Linked DNA regions of Homo sapiens: all the other regions are linked to region 1. Evidence: fine-mapped expression QTL. A gene starts in region 1. Each other region holds a variant in brackets. All regions are shown on one strand. Distances are from middle to middle. Region 1 holds the start of PFKP (phosphofructokinase, platelet). Region 2 overlaps PFKP (phosphofructokinase, platelet). Region 3 overlaps PFKP (phosphofructokinase, platelet).

What was found. PIP is the estimated chance that this variant, and not a neighbour inherited with it, causes the effect.
Region 2: its variant is fine-mapped to the expression of PFKP in B cells (Fairfax 2012, PIP 0.95).
Region 3: its variant is fine-mapped to the expression of PFKP in whole blood (Lepik 2017, PIP 0.95).

What each region holds. Positions count from the first base shown.
Region 1 is chr10:3,063,750-3,071,287 of GRCh38, reverse strand. It overlaps PFKP (phosphofructokinase, platelet), which reads right to left and starts at 3,740. Exons shown (of 22, transcript NM_002627.5): 1 at 3,581-3,740. The coding sequence starts at 3,692. It overlaps LOC124902536 (wiskott-Aldrich syndrome protein family member 1-like), which reads right to left and starts at 4,718. Exons shown (of 1, transcript XM_047426132.1): 1 at 3,940-4,718. The coding sequence starts at 4,585. The coding sequence ends at 4,148. PFKP-DT (PFKP divergent transcript) reads left to right here and starts at 4,355. Exons shown (of 4, transcript NR_160681.1): 1 at 4,355-4,535. RefSeq lists silencers at 2,022-2,221, 2,308-2,488, 2,902-3,081, 3,502-3,901, 3,912-4,011 and enhancers at 2,632-2,701, 7,502-7,538.
Region 2 is chr10:3,118,589-3,124,857 of GRCh38, reverse strand. PFKP (phosphofructokinase, platelet) reads right to left here. Exons shown (of 22, transcript NM_002627.5): 15 at 5,989-6,076; 16 at 4,814-4,966. Among named protein-coding and RNA genes, the nearest start is that of SNORD142, 12 kb to the left of the region's middle. The variant AAAAAC/C (reference allele first, on the strand shown) is at 3,272.
Region 3 is chr10:3,093,951-3,101,488 of GRCh38, reverse strand. It overlaps PFKP (phosphofructokinase, platelet), which reads right to left. Exons shown (of 22, transcript NM_002627.5): 3 at 2,137-2,214; 4 at 1-124. Among named protein-coding and RNA genes, the nearest start is that of PFKP, 30 kb to the right of the region's middle. RefSeq lists an enhancer at 5,139-6,338. The variant T/C (reference allele first, on the strand shown) is at 4,141.

The DNA.
Region 1 (7,538 bases):
TATAATTAAATAATATACACTCTACTGAGAGAAGAAAAAGCAGCCCATCACATAATATCGTTCTTGCCACCTGGACTCCTATCACTATAAAAAGGCATTTTCCGTTCCCCTAACAAAGCCACCCAAAGAATATCTGTGTAATTTTGGGCAAATCGGGTTTTGCTCACTTTTGAGCATTAACTAGATAAAGCAGCTTCACCAAGAAAGGTCCCTGAAAAACATGGTGGAGATGGTGGAGGCCTGACACAATGGCTCATGTCTGTAGTCCCAGCTCTTTGGGAGGCCAAGGCAGGAGGATCACTACAGGAGGCCAGGAGTTCAAGGCCAGTCTCGGCAGCATAGTGAGATCCTGTCTCTACAAAAATAATAATAATAATAATAATAATAATTAGCTGGTCATGATGGTGCATTCCTGTCTTCCCAGCTACTCAGAAGGTTGAGGCAGGAGGATCACTTGAGCCCAGGAGTTTGAGGCTGCAGTGAGCTATGATGGCACCACTACACTCTGGCCTGGGTGACACAGCCAGACATAAGTACTCTTCGTGGTCTACGGGAGAGTACAATATTTGGAATTAAGATCTGTTTTGCTCCTATCACAATCACGTATGCACCTCATGCCCTTACCTAACTTACTTTTCTTTCTGAGTCTTTCTCCCCACTTCCAAAATGAGGACACGCCTCTCTTGGGATCATGTATTTAGGCTTGGAGATAAGAAGTGTAAAGCTCTTAGAATACAAAATGTTTTCAACAAATGGTAGCTATGATCATCTTAATATACGGAATTTTACCATAATTTCACATCTGACAGAAAATTCCCCTGAAATTAATACGTGAATGTGAATATGTTCTCTCATCTCTAGCTACAAGCAATAGTCTTCTATGTCAGGGAAAATCAAGTACTAACATAGAATCAGAATAAAATGGTAAAAGAATGGGGACACTGAGATATTCTCGAGGAATAACCTACTTACTGTAAGGGTTTGTAAATCTGTGGCAGCTAAGACCAGGCCCTCTGAGTACATCTGGAGGTGAACTTCCTTAAAAGAAATGCGTCCAAATGCTCCAACAGGTTCAAGATCGTATCACCGAAGGGTAAAGCTCTTTACAGAGTCTACAAAAAAATTGTGACTTCAGCTCTGCCAGGGAAAGAGTGCCCAGGCGACCCGCCATGGCGGGCTTCCCCAGGGACAGCCCAGGTGTGACCCATGTGGGCTCGAGGCCACCATATTTGATGCCACCTGCAGAGCTGAGGGCAGCTGTCTCCTATTAACCCGAGGTTGCAGCAACCAAGCCGCGTTCCCCACATAATATTGGTTTCCAAAGTATCATTTTCCCCAGAAAAGAAGAGGCGTGGACTTACTAACCTTCAATATGTCTAACTCCTCCCAGGTGGCAAAACCAGGGTAACAGAGAACACCGCGATTCTGCCAATGTATCCTAATCTCACATGCCTGTACACAAACTCCCGCGCATTTTAGCAAGCTTTTGGACATGGAGCTCAAAGGAATGACCCATAAATATTTTCCAATACATGCAGTATCTTAATTTTTTTTCTTTCTTTTTTTTTGTAGACACAGAGTCTCACTATGTTGCCCAGGATGCTCTGGAACTCCTCGGCTCAAGCGAGCCTCCTGCCTCGGCCTCCCAAAGCACTGGGATGACAAGCATGAGCCACCGTACAAGGCCCACAGCACCTAAATTCCAAAATAACCTTGAAACCCTGACTTTCCACCCGCCCTGGTGGCTTCCAGAGATCAGTTCCTCTTCCTGTGCCAAAGGTTTCTTGTCTTTCGCGGCCCAGGTAAGGTCACTCAAGGTGCTCCCTCTGCTTCTGAAGGCCTTTGACTGAGAAGCCACTCTGGGTCCTATCCCGACCCCAAGGCGGCTCCATTCGTACCCGCACATCTCCGGGCCGGTTTAAGTCACGCGGGCCAGGCTATTTCCACTTCACTCTCCTGTTTCTTCAATCCCATCCTCTGCTGCATCACGTTTTCTTTCTCTGAGAACCCAGCCCTGCAGGAAGAACGTTGATGCTGGGGTCCTTTTACTGGAATGCTAACGCCAGAGCACTTCCCGGGGGCGCTGCAGGGCGGGCTGCGGGGCGGGGCCTGGCGCTGCCACCCGGGTCTCCCGCGGGGGGCGCTGGGCCTGGGGAGGCTGCGCTGCGGGCCTGGGGAGCGCGCGGCGCACGGGTGTCGGGGCCGGGGCTCGTGGAGACGACGGGCCGGGCATCACGTAGGCGCTCGTGGCGGGCGGGGCGGCGCCCACAGCGCCTCAACCTGCGGCACCCGCGCCCGCCCCGCGCGCTCAAGGGCGAAGGGAAGGTCACCCGCGCAGTGGGCAGGGGGTGCATCCCCGCTCCAACCCTGTGCAGTGCGCGGCCCCGAAACGGGAGGAAATCCGCCATCCGGGCCTTTCCACGCATCTGCGGCAGGAGGAACCGGGAAAACAAAAATCAAAACCCAGCTCGGGGCGCGCCGCGTCTCCAGCCTGCGCGATCGCTAAGGCTCCCAGGTTGCGTTCGCCTGGGAAGCGCCGATCTACCCGCCAGGGATTGCACGGATCGGGACACTCCATCATCCGGGCACCGGCGCCCCCACGTGCACCCGGGGCCTGGGGCGCGCCGAGTCTCCGCCACCTTCCGCTCTTCAATGTTAAATATCCTCCCGGCGCGCCCGCGTCCGTGGGCCCAGCCTCGGGCCCCTCCTAGAGAGCAGCTTCCACATTGCAGGGCAGGGAAGCCCGGAGCCCGCGCCGCGGCGCCGCTGACATCCCGGAGTCCCCGCTTCCTGATCCTTCCCGTCTGCGGAGGCTGGCGGGGAGGGCCTGGGACCCATTTTGGTTTTCGTTTTTGTCACGAGCCGGAAGGCGACAGCACATGCGAGCGCAGGAAACCCTTTTTAAAAATCTCCCAGCGGAAACGCGAGGGGCTGCCGGACCGCCCTGGAGACGCCAGGCGGGAACCCCGCGCACCCCCGCCGCGTCCCGCATTGCAGCAGCCAGGACCCCGCCCACGCCGCGCAGGGCACGAGGCGACAGGAGGCGCGCGGGGACCCAGCCGTTTCTTCCTCGACATTCTAGGGGGTGGCGTGCGGCGGAGTTGGGGGGCGGGGGGGCACTTAGGAAGTGATCGCGCTGTACCCACGCTTCGGAGGGGACGCCCGGCCCCGTCCTACAGCTCAGAGGCAGAACGACCCCCGAGGGCGCTTCAGGCGACTCCCTCTGCCAGGTTCCATTTAAAACAAAACCGAAGGTGGAAAACTCACTGATCTTCCGGATGGAGGTTCCTACCGCCATGTCCCTTCCTCCCCCGCCCCACCGGGCAAGGACCCCGGGGCTGCCTCGCCGGCTCATGCCGCCCCGCAGGTACCCCTGCCGCTTCCGGGCGCGGGCTTCTTCCCGGTTCTCCCCATCGCTTCCCCGCTCTTCTCCCCGGTTCTCCCCATCGCTTCGCCACCTTTCCCCGGGTCCCCCCCATCGCTTCCCCCCTCTTCTCTCCGGTCACCCCATCGCCTTCGCCCGGTTCTCCCCAGCTCCGTCCGTCCGTCCCTCCCTCGCCGCCGGGAGGGGGGCGCGCACCTTGAGCATCCCCGCCGCTGGTCAGCACGCCGATGGCCTTGCCGGCCCCGGAGAGGTGCTCCAGGAACTTCCGCAAGGAGCCCTTGGGGGCCCGGGAGTCGTCCGCGTCCATGGCGAGGAGGCCGAGGGGAGCCGCACGTCCGGGTGCGCAGCAGGCAATGGGGACCCTGCCCGCGCGCGCCTGACTCGGAACCGCCGCCCCGCCCGCGCCCCCGCCCGGCCCCAGCGCCAATGGGCGGTGACGGGCGGGGCCCGAGCGTATGGGAGGGGCTGCGGGGGAGGGGGCGCGGGCGCGGCTAGGGGCAGGGGCCGGGGCTGGGGCGGGTGTGGGCAGGAGCATCTACGCGGGGGTCGTCGTAGGTGGGGGCCGCGCTAGCGGTGCGGGAGGCGGCAGAGGCAGGGGTAGCGCCACAGGTGGGCGGGTCCCTGCTAGTGGGGCCGCATCGCAGGTGCGCGAGCCTCGCGGGTGGGCTGGAGGACTCTGGTTGGGGGCTCTAGAGATGACGGGAGCGCCACAGGTGGGGCAGGGGCAGCGTCCGGAGGAGGGGAGACCGCAGGGGGCCGGGGTCACATCGTTTGCGGGGCGCGCCAGGGCGGGGCGGGATAGAACGCCGGGAGCATCTCCCGGGGGGGCGAGGGAGACCGTGAGTGGGCGCGAGCGCCGGGGCGGGTGGAAACCCCGCAGTTGCGGGGAGCGCCGATGGCGGGGAGGGGTGGAATGGGGGCGCGGAGACCCCACCTGGACGCGGAGGCTCGCGGCAGGCCCGGCCGCTCGGGCCGTTGTGGGGGCCGAGCCCGGCCGCGCGCACAGCTTCTAGTGGCCCGCAAGATTCCTCCTGGGGCGGCGCTGGGAGCCTCGGGGCTCGGCTTCCTCGACCCCCGCCCCCAGGTTTCCTCTGCAGCCTGAGGTCGGGAAGGACGGACGGAGAGTGGATCCTCCAGGTGGTGGGAAAAGGTGAGCGTGGCGGGCTGGGCCATGACGAAGCTGCCATTTCCCGGGCCCATGGGGGCTGTGGTGCTCCTGGGCCCCCAGCCCCGCCCTTGGGGGGAAGAAGCCGTGGGGTGGAGGAAGGTATCGGGGCGCGACCCTCAGAGACGCCCTGGCGGCGCCCCGGCCTGGGCGCTGGAAAGTCAGAGTGGGGCAGGAGGAGGCGCAACAGGACTGGCCTGGCGGGGAGGCGGGGAGGCGGGAGGACCCTCCCTCCCCACGGACACGCGCGCTGCTGTACGCTCTGCCTGACCTCGGCCGGCTCCACTGGCCAGCTCCACGTACTGAAATACTCACATCCAATGCACTGTGCGGTTGCCCATCCACAGCTTAACAGCCTGGTGCCAGTTACCCTGCGATGGGAGAGGGGGCAGCCCCCATAGAAGCACGGGCTTATGGGACCCGGGTTCCTTCAGTGCTCACCCACGAAGAAGGGCTCCCAAACGGCCCCACTCGACGGCTCACCGGAGGATGGTCCTGCGCAGTGGGTGTTTGTTGAACAGATAAGAGACAACAAAACAGACTAAGAAGAGGCCTGTTCTATGAACCGGGGAAAGTGAAGGAATCACAAAGAGCGGCTCGCCTTAGGGCAATCCTGGGGAAAAGATGGAGAGGCATGGATTTTTCTTGGATGTGTGCCTCATCCTGGGGCTCATCCCTCTGAGCATCAAATATTCATTGCAAAAGAGGGGGAAAAACTCTGCTGCGGACAATGCTGGATGGTCTGATCTCTCCCTTGGCCAGAATTAACGGGGCAATTCCTAACCCCTGTTGGTCCTCAGAATCACCTGGCCTATGCACACTCCCGCTAAACCACTGAAGTCCAATTTCTGGGAGCTCAGCCAGGGAATGTGTATTTTTAAACAAGCCCCCTAGGTTACTCTGATAAGTGCAAAGTCAGAGAGCGCTGCTCTCATGCACTGAGCCTGAGCACTCTTCTATTAATAAAAAAGGAGAGGAGAATCCTGGGTTGGGTGCCCTTCGCCTTCTGGCGGCAGAAGAGCAGAGCCAGGCTCTAAGCACCTGCACCCACCGCTGGGCTCAGGAGCTGCGCTGGAGAATAGAAGGGCTAATTTAGTCATTCATGCCTTTTTAGAGCAAATTACATGTGGAGAGGGTGGGGCACACTGAATTTTATTTTAGCCAAATGCCCCTTATCTCCTTATGCAATTGATATTTTTATATTGAACATTAGAGGATTGGTCATTTGTCATCAAGTCGTCTGTAATACAGAAAACGATAAATACAACCTAACAGTTCAAACATGACGAGTTAAATAAATGATGGTTAAAAATATACGCTGCGATAATATTTAATTGCTGTTACCACTACGAAGATAAGTGTCGACTGACATGGAAATATGTTCAGGTCAAACAAATAAATGAAAAGGCAGGCCTGGACACAGTGTGAGCCTGTGCTTGCATGTGCGCACGTGTGCGTGTAAGTGTGTGTGTGAGTGTGCACACACGTAAATGTTTCTGAGCATTTTATTTCCTTTCTTTTGCTTAGTATAGGTAATGCCATTTTTCTCTCCAATGAACAGGTATTGTTTGGGGAATAGAAATAGTTAATTAAAAACAATAAAATTTAGAGTGTCCAGATCCCCAGGGTTATGGATTATGTTCAAAAGTTTGTCTGTATGTAAGGGCTGGGGTCAGGGTGGTCACTGACCGTCCTCACACATCTATTCTCATGAGTTTGACCCATTGCTCAGTCAGTCAAGGAATTAACATATATTTATATATACCTGTAGCTAAGATGGAAAAGCATAGCTATGGCTCTTTTTTTTTTTTTTTTTTTTTTTTTTTTTTGCAAGTCGTGTATTTTAATGGTGCTACAACTAGAGATTTTTTTTTTGTTGTTTAATCTTTGGCCTGAGCAATGAATCTTCTAATTCAAGAGGAAGATACTGCATGCCTTGTTGACTGTACGGCTTCCACCCAGTAGGACCTGACATGTGTGTTTGTTCTTTATTGTCCCTTGACAGATTACTGCAAACTGTGGCCCACACCAGCACACACTTATACCACAGGAATGATTACTCCTTGGACCAGGAGTTCAGACAGGCTTCACTGGGCCCTCTGCCCCAGGGGCCCTCTGTGGCTGCAACAGGTGTCTGCCCAGGGCTACAGTGTCTTCTGAAGGCTCAGGCTCATCATGGGAGGAGCTGCTTCCACGCTCACTCCTGTGTTGCTGGCAGGATTCTGTTGCTTGCAGGCTGTTGGACTGAAGGCCCCAGTCTGTCCCTGGCATCAGCTTCAGGCTGCCCTCTGCCCTGGGCAGGTGACTGGCTTTGCCAGAACTAGCACATGTCAAGAGCCAGGGGGAGAATTCCAGTGGACGGAACCTGCAGCCCTTCCCAATCCAATCTCAGGAAAGACCGCCGTCTCTTTTGCCTGATTCTGTTCATTAGAAGTGAGCAACGGAGTCCAGCCCTCTTCGAGGATCTGGCTGTGAACACTAGGGGCAGGGGCCACGGGGAGCCACTGGGAGGGGAGGTGCTGCCTGGGACCTGCCTAGGACAAGGTGAAGGAGAACATGCATAGGGACAGATGCCCTTCCCACTTCCCCTCTGCGGTGAGCGCAGGAGCTGCCCATGTGCCCTAAAGGAGTCCTGCCATCCCAGGAGGAAAGCAGCTCCTAGCCATGAGGGCACCATAACCCTGTGTTCCGGCATGTTGGGCTGCACATTCCACCACCAGGGCTACCTGAGCTGCAGCCTCTTCCCTTCCCCTGCTGTTTCTGCCTGTGCATGGAGTAGGCATCTCAAATCTGCAGGGGCCAAACTGAGCTTAGGCCTCTGCACCCCCACGCAACCCCCCACCCCTCGGTCTTCCTCACCTCAGCTCCTGGTGACCCCATCCTCCCAGGGTCTCAGGCTGAAGCCTTGCAGTGCTCCTCTACCCTGGCATCCAAGTCTCTCAGGAAGGTCCCTCCTGGCTCTTCATTGCATCTGGAGCCACTGGGGCC
Region 2 (6,269 bases), 54 kb before region 1:
AGCACAGCGGGGTGGTGTGAGGCAGGCAACGGAGCAGGTTGCAGGCAACGGCGAGTTAGTCACGAGTGGGACAGCTCAGCTCTCGGCGTGTCATGGTAGGTAAGGGAGGCCAGGGCAGTCAGGACACTTAAAGGCAAAGCCAATCCTGTAGCTTTCTGCAGGCAGGCAAGGATCAGTGGGATGGGGCACACGGCTGTAAGGACCACACCAAATGCCCGCCTTCATCGTGCAGAGGCGGCGCCCAGGTGCAGGCAGGGAAGGGGGCATGCAGCTGGATTACCGGTGGGCCACACTCAGCCCCACGCCACATCTCTGCTCTCCGGGCGGAAGCTGCCGTTTCTGCCCTCGGCAAGCCGCACACAAAGCCGCACAGGCGAGCAAGAACCTGAGTTGCTGCTCTGGGGTTCCACTGGGAAATGCGCTCCGGTATCAGAAAGGGGAGCGGTTCTTGAGCCCGTGTACACCGGGGTTTTTCAGACTCCACCTCAGGGTGTTAACCAAAGTCACAGCAGGACAGGTCCACACGCCCACTGTTCCCACCTCCAAGTGGCCCCACACAGCAAGGTGTTTTTGACATCCACGTGGTGGCAAAACCAACTATTTATGGTCTTGGACGTGTCCGTCTTACTGTGAATATCCCCACATCTGCTGCAGAAATGCTACTGGTGGGACACAGGGCGGCGCCCACACCTCCCTGGGAGAGTCGGACAGTGAGCGATCTGGGCTCTGCAGCCCTGGTGCAACGCAAAGCATCCCAAGGCCTGGAGCCCGTGTGGGCCGAGGGCTTCGGACAGTGGGTGTAGACCCGTGGCAGGTGAGTTCACAGCACGGTGGATAGGAGGGTGGGGCGGGTGGGTCAGTGCTGGGTGACCACAAGGCGAGCTGTGAACGGGGTCAGTGCTGGGTGACCACAAGGTGAGCTGTGAGCAGGGTCCCCCGCACCCCATGGCACAGCCTCCACCTCCACCCAGGCCCAGCACGTGCCCAGCTCTTGGGCCGCTCTGTGCAGGCTCTGCCTGGCAGGCTCTGGCCATGGCAGTTTTTGCAGGACTTCAATCCAAATGCCAGCTGCTTCCCAGCCAGCAACACTCATGTCGGGGCACTGGCTGGCCTGGTGCCCAGGATGTGGCCCCTCAGCACCGCCACGTGGGAGTCTCCTTATGCTTTTCAGACAGGTGATGTCGCTCACTTTACTGTGGAATACCCGAGCTCAGGACTGACCAAGACTGGCTGTGGGGAGCCGGCTGTTTCTCCGAGAAGCGCTCGCTGGAAGCCAGACGGTGTGGGTGACCTGGGACCAGGAGGGGCCTGAGGCACACAGGAGGGCAGGTGGGGGTCTCGGCAGCTTAACTCCACATTGAAATCTGTGGGGACAGCCACAATGCTGCAAATCCTCTCTCCCCTCTTCCCTATCACTCCTCTTTTCCTTCCTTCAGTCTCCAAAAAAGGGAAGGGAAGCTTCAATACGGGGGAGACCCTGCCCAGCAAAACATAAAATTCTCAAGACCAAGCGCAGCCAGGCTGTGAATCAGTCACGAGGCTGTGGTCACTGCCACCTTCGCGGCAGCTGACGGCAGCGTGGCAGCAGCTTACTGTGCTTCTGATGTGACCTTATCGAGCTTACAGGACGGAGTAATGGGCCAGTGCTAAGGAATGAAAGGGTCGGACTGAAACTCCCTGCAGCCGTATCCTGAGAACGTGTCACACCGGCTCTGAGGTATCTCATTCCTTCTGCTCTGCCCGGAGGACCACTCACCAGCACCGCATAGATTCTGAGGGGCTAAGCATCAATGCTGGCAAGAAGGAAATCATGAGAGAGGACGAGGACGCACGTGTCCAGAGAAGATGAGGCTTCACCACATCAGCCCCGCCCAGGGCTTCCGAAGCACAACACGGCGACATCCTGAGCCAGACTCCTATTATGGAGCCCACCCTGTGCTCTGAGGGACGTTCCGCAGCGTCCCTTGTCTCCAGCCCCAGATGCTGGGAGCATCCCTTTTCCCACTTCTAACCAGAAACCTCCCTGGACGTTGCAAACATCCCCTGGGGCAAAATCACCACCCCTGCCCCCATGAGAATCACCAAATTTTCTGAACAATAGAAGCCAGTATACTGGAGCCATCTACAGACCTCAAACCTAAATGCTGCCCAGGGCCATGCCATGAGTCACCAGTCACAGAGGGTGTGGCCGGACAGGGAAGAGACGCTCACTCCCATGCGTCCTCAGCCTCCGGCGGCTTCAGGACAGTGGCCGGGGGGACCCGGAGCCATCCACGTCCAGTTGCCTCACACCCTGATTTCCTGAGGACGCCACCAGCTCATGTTCTTCTATGGCCAGACGAGCCCAGTTCAGACCCAAATCCAAACCTTCTCAGGATTCACACTGTTCGGCCGTCAGTAAACAGGGCTCTGGAGAAAACAGCTGCCATGTTCACATATCGGTCCCTCTCCCTTCAGGGTCCACAGAGGGACCCTCAGCGGCTTTCTCTTCTCTGTCCCAGCTCCCCAGCAGCCACAGCATTCGCCAGGGTGACCTCGGTCAGACGGCGCCACTCACCCATCACGAGACTAGAACCACCGCACTCCCAAGACAGCCTTGTTCCTTGGAGCTCAGGATCAGAAGGGCAACAAGGACACACACATGCACTTACCAAGGTGGCTGTGCCTGGCCAACGGGAGGCTCAACTAACTACACGCTCCAGTTCTTTCTCAGACATTGTAATCAGTTAACTTCAGGCCCGGCGCGGTGGCTCATCCCTGTAACCCCTGTGCTTTGAGAGCCCAAGACAGGGGGATTGCTTGAGCCCAGACGTTTTGAGACCAGCCTGGGCAACACAGGGAGACCCCGTCTCTATGGAAATACAAAAAATTAGCTGGGCACGGTGGCACCCACCTGTAGTCCCAGCTACTCAGGAGGCTGAGGTGGGAGGATCACCTAAGCCTGGGAGGTCGAGGCTGCAGTGAATAGCGATTGCAGCACTGCATTCCAGCCTGGGAAACAGAGTGAGGCCCTGTCTCCAAAAAAAGAAAAAAAAAAAAAAAAAAAAAAAAAAAGAAAAAAAAAGAAATTGTTTAACCTAGCTTCGAGAAACTCGAATGAATGAAAAACTGCATTTAAAACAATCGCATAATAAATCACACAATCCCTCCAAGGGAAGTAAAAGCAGGTGGAAATGATCATTTGTGGGGTGTTTTTGCCCCACGTATTTTGGTTTTCATAAATTTGACCCTATGCATTTGTTACATATTTACAATCTGAAAAAAAAAAAAA[AAAAAC/C]AGTTATTTATAGCAGAGGACCCTGGAATTAAAAAGAAACTCAGCTAACTGCAGCGACCGCTCTCAAATTCTCCACCCGTTCCCTCTGGGCGAGTTCCAATTAGGTAACAATTAGGGAAAAAAGAAGCTTCAGTCCCTCCCATTGCACACCCAACTTTCACAGACCCAAAAATCTAGCTAAAGCAGGCGAAAGAGCAGTGAAAGCAATGACGGAATCCAGTCTGTGAAAGAGGCTCATCTTCACATTCACAGTGCGAAGGTAGGTCCAGAGCCGGGCCAGCCCCGCAGCAGCAAAGCCGTGACACCCACCACCAGGAGAACAGAAGCAACGTCTAGGTCAGAGATTAGCAACTGCCAAAAATAAGGTGAAAGTTGCCCCCAAAGCCAGTGAACACAGGAAAACCTGGGCAGGTTTCCTTCGCAAAGAAAGTGAAGAAAGTTTAAAACGCTCAGAAAAGCAAGAAACGAGTGCTAAGCATTACTTACCATATGAGCTGTATGTTAAAAGCTTGTTTTTTTATTTACCAGTGCTAGAAATAAGTTTCATGCCAAGGTTTTACAAGAAAAAATATCTTTGAAAAATATTCATGAGAACCAAGTCTCACAAGAAAAATTAAAACTTGAGAATTACTACAAACTTTTAGACATCAAATTTTAAAAAAATGAAATGCTTTCTGTGTTAGGTACGGATCTTCAAACTCCCACATCAATTACCAAGCGTGACACACAAACATGGGAATAGGTGTATATTTCTTTTAGCCGGGAATGGTGGCACATGCCTGTGGTCCCAGGTACTCGGGAGGCTGAGGTGAGAGGATCACCTGAGCCCGGGAGGTCGAGGCTGCAGTGAGCTGAGATCACACCACCGCACTCAAGCCTGGGTGACAGAGTAAGACCCCGTCCCACAAAGAAAAAAAGAAGAATATATTTCTATGTTTTATTATTGTCTCTTGGCAAAAAAACTAAAGTAGCACCAATTATTGCCTTAGAGGTAATTTAACATCCCCAGTTTACAAAGGGGAAAATGAGGTCAACAGCCAAGACCAGAGAGATAACAAATGCAATGGTGCATTCAGGGCAATGAATAAAATTATAAAATATTCAGTTCAATTTCTACCCTCAGCATCAAGGCAGGGGTTCATCATAATGGGTATTGGAGGCTCAAAGAAAATTTAGGCTCAGCACACACACACACACACACACACACACACAGCGATTTTTAATGCTGGTACAATCACAGGAGACTGCGACCCAGCCCTCCTCAGCGCCTCGGGTGCTCACGGGCACCCCTGGAGTCTCGGCCACACTACGTCCCCCTGGTGGCCACACAGAAGAAGAGGTGGTAAAACTCTCTGGGAGTGAGATCAAAAATTTTCAGAGTCTTAAAACATACTTTTCTGGGGGAAAAAAAGAACGAGAAGCTCTCATTCAGGGTATTTGTAAAAGGCTATTTCTAGCGCACTGGTAGATAAAAAGGGCCGGGGCCCCGGGGTTAGCGTCAGCCGGCGCCCGCCTGGCAGGGCGCACACGGACTTACGTCGGTGATAGTGTTCAGGGCGGTGTCTGCCCCGATGCTGAAATCGGAACCCGGCACATTGTTGGACACAGTAGCGGGAACCATGACCATGGGGACACAGAACTCCTCGTGCTTCTCCCGGGCGGCTGACAGCTCCAGGAGTCCCAGGTAGGCCTGTCAGACAAGCGTGGGAGTTGTGGGGCGAGAGGGAAGCTGGGGAGGAGAGGGTCTCGCTGGGAGAGGCTGGGAGCGCCACCTCCACCACAGCACGCAGGGAGCACACTGGGGCATCACGAAAACACTCCGAGATCAACACACAGTTGCCTTAAGACCACAGACAAGGATCGGCAGGTTGTAAGCACAAAGGGCGCAGGACAGACATGATCGGTTAGATGACTAAACCTCTCATGGGTAAGAGTCTCATTTCTGAGGTTCTTACTTTGTTTTTGTTTTTGTTTTTTGAGACGGAGTCTCGCTTTGTGGCCCAGGCTGGAGTGAGGTGGTGCAATCTCGTCTCACTGCAACCTCCGCCTCCCGGGTTCAAGCGATTCTCCTGCCTCAGCCTCCCGGGTAGCTGGGACTACAGGCACCTGCCACCACACCCGGCTAATTTTTATATTTTAGTAGAGACGGGGTTTCACCATGTTGGTCAGGCTGGTCTTGAACTCCTGACCTCAGGTGATCTGCCCGCCTCGGCCTCCCAAAGTGCTGAGATTACAGGCGTGAGCCACCGCGCCCGGCCAGTTTTTACTTTTTCTAAAAGTAAATGGAAAGGTTACCATGGGACTAATCTTCATGAATAGAAAAAATATTAGGGTCTACAGTCCAATATGTGATTTTAAACAAAATTCTAGGTATAACTACCTTAGTCTCTAAGTAGCCACTGGACTCTGGACTCAAGAGATAGAATTACTTCCACAGGCCTGAAATACATTAAGAGCTCACTGAATAGATGAGGCCCGGGTTAAGGAGTCAAGCTTTTGCTTCTCGGTTAAGTTGCTTTACTGGAACTGGGCCACTCGTAGGCCACGTCTTACCACCTGCTATCCTGCTGTTCTACAATTCTCCAGTGGCCGCTGGGTCTGGGAACCTATCATCTCGGATCGTGGCCAGTAGCCAACAAGTAGCTTAATGTTTAGCCAACACAGGGCGCGGCTCACACCTGCAAGACCGGCAAGAGAGAAACGGTAACGTACCTCGAATCCACCGATGATCAGCAGCGCGTTGATGCTGTGCGTGCGCATCTGTGTGGCGATCTCTTCCAAGTACTTCCCCGGGAGAACGCTGAAAATAGCCACGTGGAGAACGATGTCAGACACCCCAAACTCCACGCGGTCCGCAGGACGCCACGCCGGTCCCCACCCGGCCGCCTTCCCCAGTCTGTGGTTTTAATTAAGGAGCGGTAAACGTCTGCCTTTTCACTCATGCCGTTGTGGCTGGCAGATGGCAGAATGACCAGGAATCTCATCTCAAAACA
Region 3 (7,538 bases), 30 kb before region 1:
TCCCGTCCCCGCCGATCACACACAGGTTGGTGATGCCGCGCTGCAGCAGGTTGCAAGCAGCCTTCAGGCGGCCTTCCCGCGTGCGGAAGGCCTGGCACCGCGCACTGCCAATGATCGTCCCGCCCTGGGAAAGACACCAGCTAATTTATCTCCTCTCAGTCTGAGAGAGCGCCAGGTGGATGGCACACACAGGCCGACTATAAACATGGGGTGCTAGAATTTACATTTTTCTCATTTTCATCTTGTGAGTTAGTAACTAGCTATGAAAGACTGTGATTTTCCTGTTTTTAGTCCCAGACCAGCATTCCATGGACAAAGACAGGCGCGTGACACCCAGGAGGAGCCAGGGAGGGTGCAGAGCCAGACACACGGCAGCCAGCAGTTAAATACATGGAGCAGGAACCAGCCTGCGGTGTCACAGCAGCCGCCTCAGCACCGGCCAACGAGCTCAACCAGGTGCACGTGGAACCAAAGACAAGCCCACTGACCACCAGAGCATGCCGGCCAGGACAAGGGAAGCGGTGTGACCAGCAGCCAGGCTTCTCCCTCCAGTCACCCCTTACAGCACCTGCAAGTAAAACCAGCAGGAACCTGGGGCCAGGGGGATTTTTTTTTTTTTTTTTTTTGCACCACATACTCGCTGCCCCTTTTAAAGAGCTATATCTTCAGGATCTTAAATTCTTTCATCCAAACTTCCAGGGGACATAGATCATGATTCGTCACACTTGGTTTTCCAAAAACTAAGAATTGTTGGTGGGATCCACAAATGCAAGATTTCTTTAAATAAAACCATGAATGCACCAAAAAACTCCATCCGTACGGGATCCCTAAGCGCGTGCTGACTTTGTCAAGCAAGGTGCTCATAAGCACAGCAGGGGTTGTCTCTGCACTGGAGGCGAAGCTCTCCCTGCCTTCGGTCTGCAGGCAGCTCCCAGGAGACCCCTGCAGTGACGTGAGTGCGTGTTTCGATACACCAATGGTGCACGCACACAGCTCATTTTCACACACAGAGACTCACTAATATTCCAAATCCCAGAAAAGCTCCTATTTTTACATGAAACCTACCACCATTTAATTTATCAAAACATTATGAAAAGGTTACAAAAACTGAAATTCACTCCACACGATCCTACGTCACTGGCACCAAGTGTGACCGAGACCATTTACAACCCAACCCCCAAGGCAAGTGAGGGTGGGGGCGCAGAGCAGGGCAGGGGTGCTCTCTGGACTCTGCCTGGACAAAAACCTGGGGGGCAGCACGAGAGCCAGCACAATGGGAGCTAGAGCCAGCAACCCAGAAACTCCAACCAAAGAGACGAGGTGGCCGCAACTCAGGAACGAAACCAGGATAACTGGGCTGCAGAGGAGTGGGTGCCATTCCCATTCTCTCACTCACTCTCTTTCACACACACACACACACACACACACACACCACACACCTACACATACAAGGACACCACATATACACACACCCCACACACAGATACACATTCGCTAGCCAGAAATTCACACAGTTAACACATACACACGGGCACACCACACATACACACTCAGACTCACACACCTACATACAGACACACACCAGACTCACACAGTTACACACACACCGAGATTCACACACCACATACACCACACACAGAAACACAGACTCACTGATACACATACGCACTTCAACTCTCCGTTCACATCTTATCTTCCTCCGTCAATCACGACCGCAGAATGGAAACGCTCCCCTGTGTGAATTCAGCCCACACTCTCCTGATGTTTTGCAAACGTTGCTCCACCTAACTTCCGTGGTTGTCAAAATTCCCTCCACCTCTCTTCTGATGTGTCGGAGCTCAGGAGGCGCCCAATGCAGAGAGAGCCTGGACCAGCACGAAGGTGTGGGCCCCATGAGCGTCTTCAGCGGGGAGGCACCGATTTGGATTATTTCTATTAACAAGTACTCAAAGTGACTCACAGATTAACACATGCATTTCTAAAAATCAAACCACAAGTAAAGAGCTGCTCACAAAGTCTGTTCTGTCCACATAATCTCTATTTCGCAACTGATCTGAGCTCAAGTGTTCTGGGAATTTACTAGACATAAAAGAGTCTCTAACTCAGAGAACCCTGTGGACGCAGCCCAGTACCTACCACTTGCAGGATGCTGGAGACACTCTCCCAGTCGGCCTCTGCGATGTTTGAGCCTCCGTCCACCATGCCCTGGTAGCCCTAGGGGAGAAAGGGAGAATCTTTTAAAAATGAGATAAACTTCACTAAATGGGAAGTGATCCTTAAATTATATAAAACGGGAAAAATGACAGTGAATGTCAGTTCCTCAGCATCCACTGGTCAGAAGACAGGGCAGTTCCAGCACTGGATAAAAGCAGTGAATTGTGGGAAAGTCCTCACCTTGAGTCCCTAGTAATGGGAACGTCTGCCTAGACTCAGCCTCACAGTGCAATGAGGAATCAAGCCATTCTCCTATGGCCCAGCGTTTCCCGAGAGGTTGAAAGGGTCGTGTTTCGCTAGAGGTTGAAAGGGGTCACTTTCACCCAACGTGTTTATCATACTTCAGCACAAACTCACAGGCACACAGCACTGTCGAGCACGGGACATACATGGGAGCATTTTGTCAGGGGCTCCGCCTGCCAAGGCACCCTGCGCCACTTGGGATGTATGTTGAATATTATTAAACAGCACAGCTGAATAATAATTGTCTGCCTTACCCTCCATTAATGACACGGTGCTGCATTAGGGAATCAGATATCAATATGTGAGGACACATTGATAGAAGAAGCCCAAGGACAATTACCTTTTTTTTTTTTTTTTTTGAGACGGAGTCTCACTCTGTCACCCAGGCTGGAGTGCAGTGGCGCGATCTCGGCTCACTGCAACCTGCCTCCCGGGTTGAAGTGATTCTCCTGCCTCAGCCTCCTGAGCAGCTGGGATTACAGGTGCCTGCCACTGCACCTGGCTAATTTTTGTAGCTTTTAGTAGAGACGGGGCTTCACCTTGTTGGCCATGCTGGTCTCAAACTCCTGACCTCATGATCCGCCTGCCTCAGCCTCCCAAAGTGCTGGAATTACAGGCGTGAGCCACCGCGCCTGGCCAACAATTACCTTTCAATGCTAAATGCATCCCCATCTTTTTCTCCACGGAATATACAAGATCAGGAAATGCAGCAATGCCCACGGGTAACTTCATCTACATAACTCACTTTCCACAGCATTTAATCTTAAGAAGGAATAACTATTAAGGATTTAGAAAAGTTCATGATAGATTATTGTTGGATCCATAAGCCCACCTTAGTGAAGGTCCGGAGGACAGAAAAAAGAAAGGTTTTTAAAATTGAAATGACTCATAGATTATGGAGTTCTATATATAAATTAATCAATAGTGCAGGCACCTTGATAGCTGGCCAATTTGTATACTTATATTTATAAATTTCTACCAGAAATATTATATATATATGTGTGTTTATTTTATTTTATTTTTGAGACAGAGTCTTGCTCTGTTGCCCAGGCTGGAGTGCAGTGGCACGATCTCGGCTCACTGCAACTTACATCTCCCAGGTTCAAGCAATTCTCCTGCCTCAGCCTCCAGAGTACTTGGGATTACAGGAACACACTACCACATCTGGCTAATTTTGTTTTTGTTTTAAAGTAGTGACAGGGTTTCACCATGTTGGCCAGGCTGGTTTCCAACTCTTGACCTCAAGTGATCTGCCTGCCTGGGCCTCCCAAAGTGCTGGGATTACAGGCGTGAGCCACCATGCCTGGCCACATGTGTGTTTATAATTTAGTGTCATACATGTAATAAACAAGAAAGGAGAAAACAGTCTGGAATGGAACAGAACCCAAAACAGAGCTGGTTCATTTCAGCGCTGGCAGCCCCGTCTGCACCTCCCGAGACCCCCCAGGCACCCAGGCCCTGGCTCACAGGCTGGTACAGGGACTGCCCATCACCAGGCCCCCTACCTCCATGGCAAAACAGCAGAACATCTTCTAAACACAGCCCAGTCTCACTCTAGGGATTATTATTATTATTATTGTCTCCCCTTGCTCTGAAAACAGATTTCCCTTGCAGTGCAGATGAGCCCAGTGTAGCCGTCCCCCGGAGGGCGAGGGTGAGCAAGTGTGAGGTCGGATGCAGACC[T/C]CGCCTCTGCACAGGGCACCCTGGGAGGCACCGTTTATGTTCTGTCCTGCTGCGGATGCTCTGTCCACACAAGGACTCACTGGTAACAGACGGTCATGTGCAAAGCCATGAATGACTCTTGGAGGCCATAATCCTCAGAATATTGTAAGTACAATAGGTAGGTAGGCGGGTGGGTGGATACATAAATAAAGAGATAACCTAGCCTTGGGGTTGCAGTTTCAGTGATCTCTACCACCCCAAACTCCCAGGTTTTTTTGTTTTTTGTTTTTTTGAGACGGAGTCTCGCTGTGTCACCCAGGCTGGAGTGCAGTGGCGTGATCTTGGCTCATTGCAAGCTCCGCCTCCCGGGTTCCTGCCATTCTCCCACCTCAGCCTCCTTAGTAGCTGGGACTACAGGCACCCGCCACCACGCCCGGCTAATTTTTTGTATTTTTAGTAGAGACGGGGTTTCACCGTGTTAGCCAGGATGGTCTCGATCTCCTGACCTCGTGATCCGCCCGCCTCGGACTCCCAAAGTGCTGGGATTACAGGCATGAGCCGCCGCACCCGGCCTCCCAGGTTTCTGCTAAGAATTATGCTTCATTCTGCAAGCACAACAGAGCGCTCCATTCTTCAGGTCTGGGAGCAACACTGAACAAACTGCCATCTGCAGTGATCCTGACTTTCCAGATTGACTTCCATGAAGCTCGGGGGGGCAAGGAAACAAGGAAGCAGGCATGTAGCCTGGGCCACCGTGAAACGGACCCTTCTTAGAGGCACGACCTCCCATCCTCCAAGCCCACATCTCAGGAGGAGAGAAAAGATGACCCATGATGGGGCCTGAACTGCAGCAGAAACCGGGACCTCCCTGAGAGGACTGGGATGTAGAGCGGCCGTAAACCTGGGGCTCCGGCAAAACTGAAACAGACAGTTCCTACATTCCCACACCCAGAGCTGTTGCGGTCATTTCTGTGCATGCAGTTTTTTGGTAAATAAAGAGACCGGGGGGAAGGTGCCAGTTCCGGCCGCCACCCTGCTGAAGAGGATGCCAAGGCCGCTGCAGCATCCTGAGGCCGTCTCAGGCCCAGGAGTCAACCATGCACCCCTAACGGCATCAGCTTTCAGAGTATTCCTGGAGCACGCGCTATCCCGGACGCTGCTTCCAAGTCAACCGCCACCCAGCATTTTACTAGTTAATATGCCATAGTGGGAACCATACAATTTCCTTTCCCTGCATGAGTTCACAGAATTTAAATACGGATTTAATCAAACATGTTAACGAATCCTCTTGCTTCTGGAGTAGTAAGAAAACTGCTCTGCAAACCACAACATTTTGAAAAGTAAAATGTTCTCTGAAAGTAATTTCATTATTTTGTGTTGCATAGATGCATGTGGCAAAGAAAGCCATTAAAAAATAGAAAGGGAGGGCTTTCTGAGTGCCACCTCCAATGCTCCCTGTCTAGTGCATGCGTGAGCTAAGTTGCTAGGAAATGACTCATTCTTTAATTTGCAAAGTCACGACGCCCATGGAACATGTGAAAAGCAACTACCAGCCGCAGTTCTAAGCCGTCTTTCACCAACAAGGAAGATATTACTAAATTAGGAAGACTCATTTTGCCCAAACGTACTACAACGTAGAAATTCAGATGAGTTTTCTCTTTTGAAGTCTTCTTAGAAGGCTGAATATTTATCTTACTACAGCCAAAGCCCAGACGTTTCCTAAAACACCCTTTTGGAATTTGCCTTCCAAGCCAGTTTTATGACTCACATAGGAAAAACAGAGCATAAAACCTTTAACCTTATCTCAGTTTTTTGGCCAAAGTAACATTCTCTGTCTTGTTGACTCTGACTCACAAGATGAACCTTAGAGCTCCTCGTTGGCTGTATCGGATCCATCGTCGGACAGAATTTTTTACGTTGAGTCATTCGATCACATCTAAGAACATGCCACAGGCTCTGAAGTCATTTCAACTTATTCGAAATTGTTTTGAGCTGTGTCAAAATAACCAGCCTTCTAACCATGTAGGAGATCATTCTATATGTAGAGGTGGTTTTGACTAGAATTTTTAGGCAATCGCCGAATCCATCATAAATGGAGTAAGCTAGTTCACCTATGCGCGTAGTTCACCTATGGGTGGCTTTCTCGGACGTCTCATATGTAAGTTTTTTTTTTTAAAGTTACAGACAAAGGGAAATTATACCGTTGTGTTGCAGCAGTAGGCTTTTTCTTTCAGAATGCTTGTTGCATGGGTCCATGTGTCTTCTCAACTGGATAATGCTTTTTTCCAATCTGATTTCCTGAATTCTTCACTCAACTAACTCCAAATGGTGAACATTCCAACTACCAGAATAAAACAAGCTCCTAGAGATAACAGACTTTAAAAGTGCCTTCCAGATAGTGTTATCACCAGCTTCCTGCAGACATAGTTACTGCATCCAGAGATGTAGGGGCTTTGCTGCTTCTGAGTAAATACTATTTTTTTTGTTTCCTACAGAATCAAGCTTTCCCTAGTTTAATCCTTTTCCCTCCCCCACAGAACCTAAAGCTACAACATTCCTTAATAAATTAAAGCATTTCACTTTTAGAATTCAGAGCATGCATGCAGAGGTCAGCTCTGAACGGCTCTCTAGGCTTAGACTTGGGAAACACCAGCGTTCCAAACTAGGTGTGCGAGAAAGAGAGGCGGCAGGAATTTCACTATGTCAATGGTTTTCAAAGGCCAGGAATCGTGGCTTTATCCTGTCTCTAGGAAATTCAGAGGCAGAGCCTGAGATTAAACAGCCCCACACCAACACACATCCCAAGCCCTGCTCACCTCCCCACCAACACTCTGAAGGAACGCTCTTGTCCAGAGACCCTACCAATCACCCCAGCAAAGCACCCTCACTGATTTCATTACTTGATAGAAAATTTCTATAGAGCAGCCTCAGGATTTCTTCTTGGGAGACTCAGTCAACTGTAAAATTCTAAAATAGGTTAGCACACGACACACCATCATGTGGTCCTGCACTTGCTTCTTTGGAAGACCAATAATGCAACAGCATGATGTATTTAGCCCTCTGGCATCACAGATTTCTTTAAGCCAAAGCTAAGAGTGCACAATTCCGGTAAGTTGTACAACCAACAGCCCCAGCAGGAGCGAGGCCGGTCGCCCTTCCTCCCCTGTAGAGAGAGGGTCCCAAGCACTGGCCTGGCAGTGACCTTACAGCAAACCCCACCTTGAGGCTCATTCAGCTGACCACAGTGGTGGGGAGGTGGTGGTGAAGGGAGATGGTGCTCTTCTGCAGTTTGAAATGTTCACTGAAACTAGATTGTCTGAAGCCACAGGCAATGGTGTAAATGGTGGTGGGATGAAGGCAGATCATACATGAAGAATTCAGCATGGGACCTGGCTGGCATATAAACATGTAATAAAAGA